Linked DNA regions of Homo sapiens. The protein of the gene in region 2 interacts with the protein of the main gene of each other region in a biochemical or structural test. Each region holds a gene or a part of one and is shown on either strand. Other genes may lie near its edges. The genes, in order: BCL2 and HRK.

The links.
Region 1: the proteins of HRK (region 2) and BCL2 interact in a test that uses a peptide from one of them, tested with the Homo sapiens proteins (one study listed by BioGRID).

The regions. Positions count from the first base shown.
Region 1 is NC_000018.10:63,122,582-63,125,372, forward strand, and holds the end of BCL2 (apoptosis regulator Bcl-2), read right to left. Parts: 3' UTR 765-2,791; downstream 1-764. UniProt on the Homo sapiens protein: Suppresses apoptosis in a variety of cell systems including factor-dependent lymphohematopoietic and neural cells. Regulates cell death by controlling the mitochondrial membrane permeability. Appears to function in a feedback loop system with caspases.
Region 2 is NC_000012.12:116,861,280-116,865,108, forward strand, and holds part of HRK (activator of apoptosis harakiri), read right to left. Parts: intron 188-3,829; 3' UTR 1-187. UniProt on the Homo sapiens protein: Promotes apoptosis.

The DNA.
Region 1 (2,791 bases), on a different chromosome or scaffold from region 2:
GGCTACCGATTCAAAGGATGGAGTATGGACCTTGGAGTCAGCCACACCAGGGCTCAAATACTGCCTCTGTAATTTATGATTATTGAGAACTTGGGCATATAGTTTCAACGTCTTGAGTCTCAGTTATCTCCTACAAAATACAAGAGGCCAATACCTACCTTGAAAGGTTTGAGAGCAAAAGGTAGTATGCATACAGTGTTGTATCCAGCAGGTGCTCAACAGATGAATGCTACTATCAGAGTCCTTTTAATTGAGTCTAAGTGATGTGACTTGAAGGGTTGAGGATTAGGGTATCAGGACCTGAACCCAGTGGGAAACATCAGATCCCTTGCCATTTAGGGTTCACCTGCTCCAAAGCAAGTAGCTGCTTTGGTTCCATCTAAAAATGTTGACTTCAAAACAGAACTTTCAGCTTATTTCCCTCTTTTTCATACACATTTCATCTTATAAAATGCAGAGGCTGGGATCTCTGGTCTATATGGAAGAACACACTCAACAGCAACAGTAGCTCTCCCAGGGAGTAGAACTCAAGACTGGTCTATCTTGTACCTAACCAGGAGGGTTATTACCAAGAAACAAGAGTCTCCTTCTAAGGTGGTTTCACCTGTAAGGCAATCCCTTAGCCTGGTCCCTGAGGGCTTCATTAGAGTAGGGTCCTGGTGATTTTACTGGCTTGTTAAGAAGGCTTTTCAAAGTCTTGTGTAATGATGATGAATGGCAGGGCAAAATCATGTTAACACATTATAAACAATTCCAGGCACAACCAGTATCTCACACTGTACTTTATTTTTCTTCACAATATTAACTAGACAGACAAGGAAAGTTTAATGGCAATGTGACTTTTTCCAACAACACAAACAAAGTGCCATTATAGCTAATGGTGGCCAACTGGAGACTTACTTTACCTTAACCATGTAAAGTATCCTTACCGTATTTTTTATGTGTACAGTGTTGCAGAATATCAGCCACCTCTTAAAAGTATCAATCTTAAAAAGAGCCATGGAAGGTAAAAGTATGAAAATCTTGATAACAAAAGCTTTCAATACAAAAACACTTATTGTACACTTATTTTTATTTAAAACAAAAATAACCCCAGTAACTCAAAACAAAAGCAAACCTTGGTTGAAAACTTAAGAAGGTATAATAAACAAAACCACCAAAAGAAAGCTTCCCCAAAAGAAATGCAATCCACTGTCACTCTTGCAAATTCTACCTTGGAGGGAAAAACTTAATGAAATGAGCTATCTGGAGGGCCCACGGCAGATTTTCCAAAAGGTTTAGGTGCATGGATTTACTCAGTATCTACACTACAGTCTTATTTATTAATAGTCTCAGAATTTTCTTGATTGAGCGAGCCTTTCCATCCTCCACCAGTGTTCCCATCTTCTGTGCTCAGCTTGGTATGCAGAACAACCTTGTTGTTGATAGGATGTTTGCTTGAAGTTATTTTTCTGGGGCAGTCCAGATGAACCGGTACAGTACCATTCATGCTCCATCTGATTTTCTTTGCATCCAGTGAGATGCATATTTCATGATTGTCCAAGGTCATGGTTGTCCAAAGACATGGAACAGAATGATTCACTGGGTAAGACTAAAGGACTTGTATTATCACTCTCCAATTCAGTTTCACATTGCTTAATTTTATAAAATTTTTTTCTGTATTGTACATAATAAACATTTAGAAACAGATGTCCCTACCAACCAGAAGGTTGTCATTAAATATCCTGTTAGTTAAAACTGCACATTTATTGTTTAAATACCCATTAGACATATCCAGCTTGAAATTTATACCATTGCACTGCCAAACGGAGCTGCACTTTGAGCCATGCTGATGTCTCTGGAATCTAAAGGTCGTACCACAAACTTCAAAATGTTTCTCATTTGTCACACAAGGTTCTTCGCAGAGGCATCACATCGACCCCAATACAGGTCCTTCATACCCTTAGTTCTGGTTATTCTGAAAACTTCCAACTCCCTGATCCAAACTTGGGAATGTTTTACATTTAAAAATTCTTCCTCCCTCCCACCCCTCCAACAAATGTCCTTTGTCCCATAATAATTTAAAAAAAAAATCCCTGAAAGATCCAAATTGAATAACAATAAAGATCTGATTGGAACCTTCATAAGCTTGACAATGTAGAATTGTATTTCTTAAAAAGTGTGTAACCACATTTGTCTGGGCTGCAAAAGACACCACAGAATAAGATCAGAATAGAATTTCAACTGACTCCCTAATTTCCTTAGAATGGCTTGTATTTCGAGCCTTTCCTGTTTTTCTCTGATAGAGTAGGTGTACATTACTAACTATAAGTGATAAGAAAGTCTAAAAACAGCCACTGCCTTAAAAGTACAGTTGGAATTAATTAGAGTTTAAGTTCACATTTATAAACTATTTGTTTTAGGATAAGTTCAATTACAAATAGAGACTATTTGCAATTCTGTTCACTCAATAGATCCTGGAGGTGAAAGCTAGACATGTGTTGGGATTGCCCTGATTATTTACATTTAATCTTGATTATTATAACTCCTCTCGATTTATAATCACTTCCTAATTTTTCCCACTGGGCCAGAGCTACATCTTTAGATGATAAGCATTTACTAATAAAACAAAGATCACATATAAATGGAAGGCCACATCTGAACACAGAGAGGTAAGTGAGCTGTGGAGAGAATGTTGGCGTCTTGTTTGAACTAAATTGAGGTGCTTCCTTAATTCTGTGACTTTATTCCAAATCTTAAGCCTGCCAGAGTTTTCTGCCCCTGCCAAATCTTCGGAGACGACCCGATGGCC
Region 2 (3,829 bases):
GTCTGTTTCTGCAGCTGGATTTCCAAAGGGCTTCCCCAGTCCCATTCTGTGTTTCTACGATCGCTCCAGGCGCTGTCTTTACTCTCCACTTCCTTCTCGAAGTGCCAACCGCGGCCTTTCAAGCTCTGGGCTCCCCCTCTGGAAAACGGGAACCAGCTTTCTCCAAGGACACAGGGTTTTCACCAACCTGCAGAAATAAAGATTGGTATTTTGGTCAGTGCAGACAGCTGCTGGGGGTGACGTCAGTGCAGTGGGCCTCTGCACGCTCAGCCCCGGATGTCGGGAGGGGGAGGAGGGAGGGGAGAGCTACTGGATGCAAAGCTCTGGTTTTGGAGGAAGGATGCCTCAAAAGCTAGTCTTGGCACTCTTCCCCTTACCAGAATCTCTGTCTATGTAGCAGCCTTCCCCAAATAGACATTTGTGCGTGCACACACACTCCCCTCTCTGCTTTTAGACCTAGATATTTACATAGGCATCTTCAGAGATGTTTTTAAAAAGAAGAATCTAGAGACACATGAACTTTTTGCTTCTCCAAATTCAGAACAGGACCTTCCTCGATTCATTTCATAGACCCAGATTCAAGAGAGAGTTGTAGGGCAGTCTCTGTTCTCTTTTGTTTGTTTGTTCGTTCATTCATCCATTCACTTATTCCCAAGTATGCCAAGTGCCATACTAGGGGCTACAGGTTCAATGACGTAATTCTTGCCCCTTGAGGGGCTCAGAACCAACAGGGAGATGGGAAGAAGTGGATAATGACAGTCCCATGTAAAGAGCACATGCAGTCTGGGGAAACGTGGTCTATAGGAGCCCAGGGGAGGCAGCTCATAAGGGAGACAAAGCAGACTCCTCAGAGAGAGTGGCAGGCCCCTGCTGACTATTGAAGAGTGCCAGGAAACTAACCAGGATAAGAAAATGAGGCATCCTAGGCAGGGCAGAAAAAACAGCCCATACCCAGGAGCATCCACCACAGAATGCACAAAATGTGTGCACAAATGCTCATGGCAGAATTATCCATAATAGCAAAATACGGAAACAACCCAAATGTCCATCAACTGATGAATAAACAAAATGTGGTCTTTCCATACAATGGACTATTAGTCAGCCATCAAAAAGGAATGAAGTATTGATACGTGAAGATGGATGAACCTTGAAGGCATCATGCTAAGTCAAAGAAGCCAGACACAAAAGGACACATATTGTGTGATTCCATTTATATGAAATGTCCACAACAGGCAGATCTTCTGGGACAGAAAGGAGAATGGTGGTTGCCTAGGGCCGGGGCGGATAGGAGGAATTGGGGAGTGATACTCATGCGCATGGGGTTTCTTTCAGGGAAACGAAAATTTTCCAAAGTTGACTGTGAAGATGGCTGCAAAATTCTATGTATACTCCTCATCATTGACTTGTACACCTTAAAAAGGTAGGGTTTTTTGTTTGTTTGTTTGTTTGTTTGTTTGTTTGTTTGTTTTTGAGACAAGGTCTCGTTCTGTTGCCCAGGCTGGAGTGCAGTGGTACGATCTCAGCTCACTGCAACCTCTGCCTCCTGGGTTCAAGCAACCTCTGCCTCCTGCCTCAGCCTCCCAAGTAGCTGGGACTACAGGTGCATGCCATCATGCCCGGCTAAATTTTTGTATTTTTAGTAGAGACTGAGTTTTGCCATGTTGGCCAGACTGGTCTTGAACTCCTATCTTCAAGTGATCCACCCACCTCAGCCTCCCAAAGTGCTGTGATTACAGGCATGAGCCACCGTGCCCAGACTTAAAAGGACAGATAAGGTGGCTATAAGTTAGCGGGGGAGATAAGAACGTATCACCCGTTATTCTAAAGCAGGTGGCATATGAACGAGCATGTGGGTAATACACACCAAGTGATATAGGAGAGAAAGTGGAAGGGAGATCACTTTATGGCTTCTGGGTTTGAAAAAGTCTGAGATGTTGACTTGCATGAACTGTAGCAGCTGGTACCCTTGACTTCTGGCTTCCTTCTGGGTTTGGCCAACAGGAGGCACTAATGGGAAAGTAAGATCAGGTGTTTGTTCCCCAGCTCCCCTCCCACTGGTCAGAGGTTGGCCACAGCCGCTGTCTGGACTCTGGTACAGTGACACCCTCCTGGAGACTCCAGGTCCCATTCCTTACCCTGGCACCTTCAGGCCAGGGTGGGAATAGCTCCCCTCTATGGCCAAGCCTGGGTACTGCATTCACTCTCGCTGGTTTCCCAAACCCTGCCCACGCCTTTGCTGTTGAAGCTGTCCTAAATTCTCCTCTGATTACTGAGTTTGGAAACACTTTCTGCCTCTTACTCGGGCCCTAATGGATACATCTGACTGCATGAAAGATATGAGTCATAAACACATGGACCCCATAGTCTATGTCAGCTGACAGTCACAAGGATCCAAATCAGTGACTTCAAACCTTTTGCTTTTTTTTTTTTTTTTAAAGAAACTGGGTCTCGCTCTGCCACCCAGGCAGGAGTGCAGTGGCGCCATCATAGCTCACTGCACCCTCGACCTCCTGAGCTCAAGCGATCCTCCCACCTCAGCCTCTAGCTGGGACTATCGGCATGCACCACCACATCTGGCTAATTTATTATTTTTATTTTTTCTTTTAGAGACAGGGTCTTTCTATGTTGCCTAGGCTGGTCTCAAACTCCTGGCCTCAAGCAATCGTCCCGCATTGGCCTCCCAAAGTGCTAGGATTACAGGTGTGCGCCACCACACCAGGCCAATTCCCCTTCTATCTCACGAGGGCACAAACACAGTAGGAACTCTGCATTGTTATGTAGCCACCATATATTTTCATAGAATATGGAATTAGTCATCAATCAACTCAATTGATAAATACATTCTAAATTTAGTTTATGAAACCAGCTTTTGTAACCCCTAAACATCTCTGTTGGTGTCTAGCCATAAACCTACAGAATGAAAGTCAGTGTAACCCTGCAGCATTAGCCTAAAATAATTATGCTGCCTTAAGCACAGGTGGGATGGAAGGAGAGACAGGAACACTTATTAAGTACCTATTATGCTATTGAGTGTGTGGACATCGTGCTAAGCATGGTTATCCGCACCAGATAAGGCCAGGTGCCTGCTTTAAATTTGCCTCCAGGCTTACTGGAAGGATATGCCATGCCAGAGACCAGTACTGTAAATGACCAATATCTGGAGGTGAACCAATAGCCTAGAAGTCAGAATGGGGTTACAATTACCAGGGAAGCTTCAGCGCGGACCCAGGATTTGATCAGGACCTAGAACACACACACATATTTTTTCCATATTTGGAAAAAGGAAGCGTGGCTTAGGTGGGGGAAGGGCCCAAACAAGACCAAGGACAGTGATAAGCATGGCACAAACAGGGAAGCGTGATGAGCAGGGAACTGTATCAGAAAGTTGTAGGAATTGAGGCCAGGTGCTATGGCTCACGCCTGTAATCCCAGCACTTCAGGAGACTGAGGAGAGAGGATTGCATAAGCCCAGGAGTTTGAGGCTGCTATGGGCTATATTTTATATATATAGGGTTTCTTTCTTTCTTTTTTCCAAGCAGCAGTAGTAATCGTGCAATTTAAAACTATTTTTAAAACATCAAGTCCATCAACCCCTGTGAGCCACTGCCCCACCCTTGGGATGTGTTCCCTTAAACTTGGCTCGTAAAGAATTTTCTCAGATGCTAACTCACAGCCAAAACTCGTGGCTGAAGTGATTCATGAAATACCTTTGAAAAAATGTCCCTGTTTCCATTTTTCATCCACCGTGTGAGGGGGGAGGCGGGCAGAGAGGGAGAACTTGAACCCACAAGGTCCTGCCTCCGTGGGCTGCAGTGATGTTGTGCCGCTT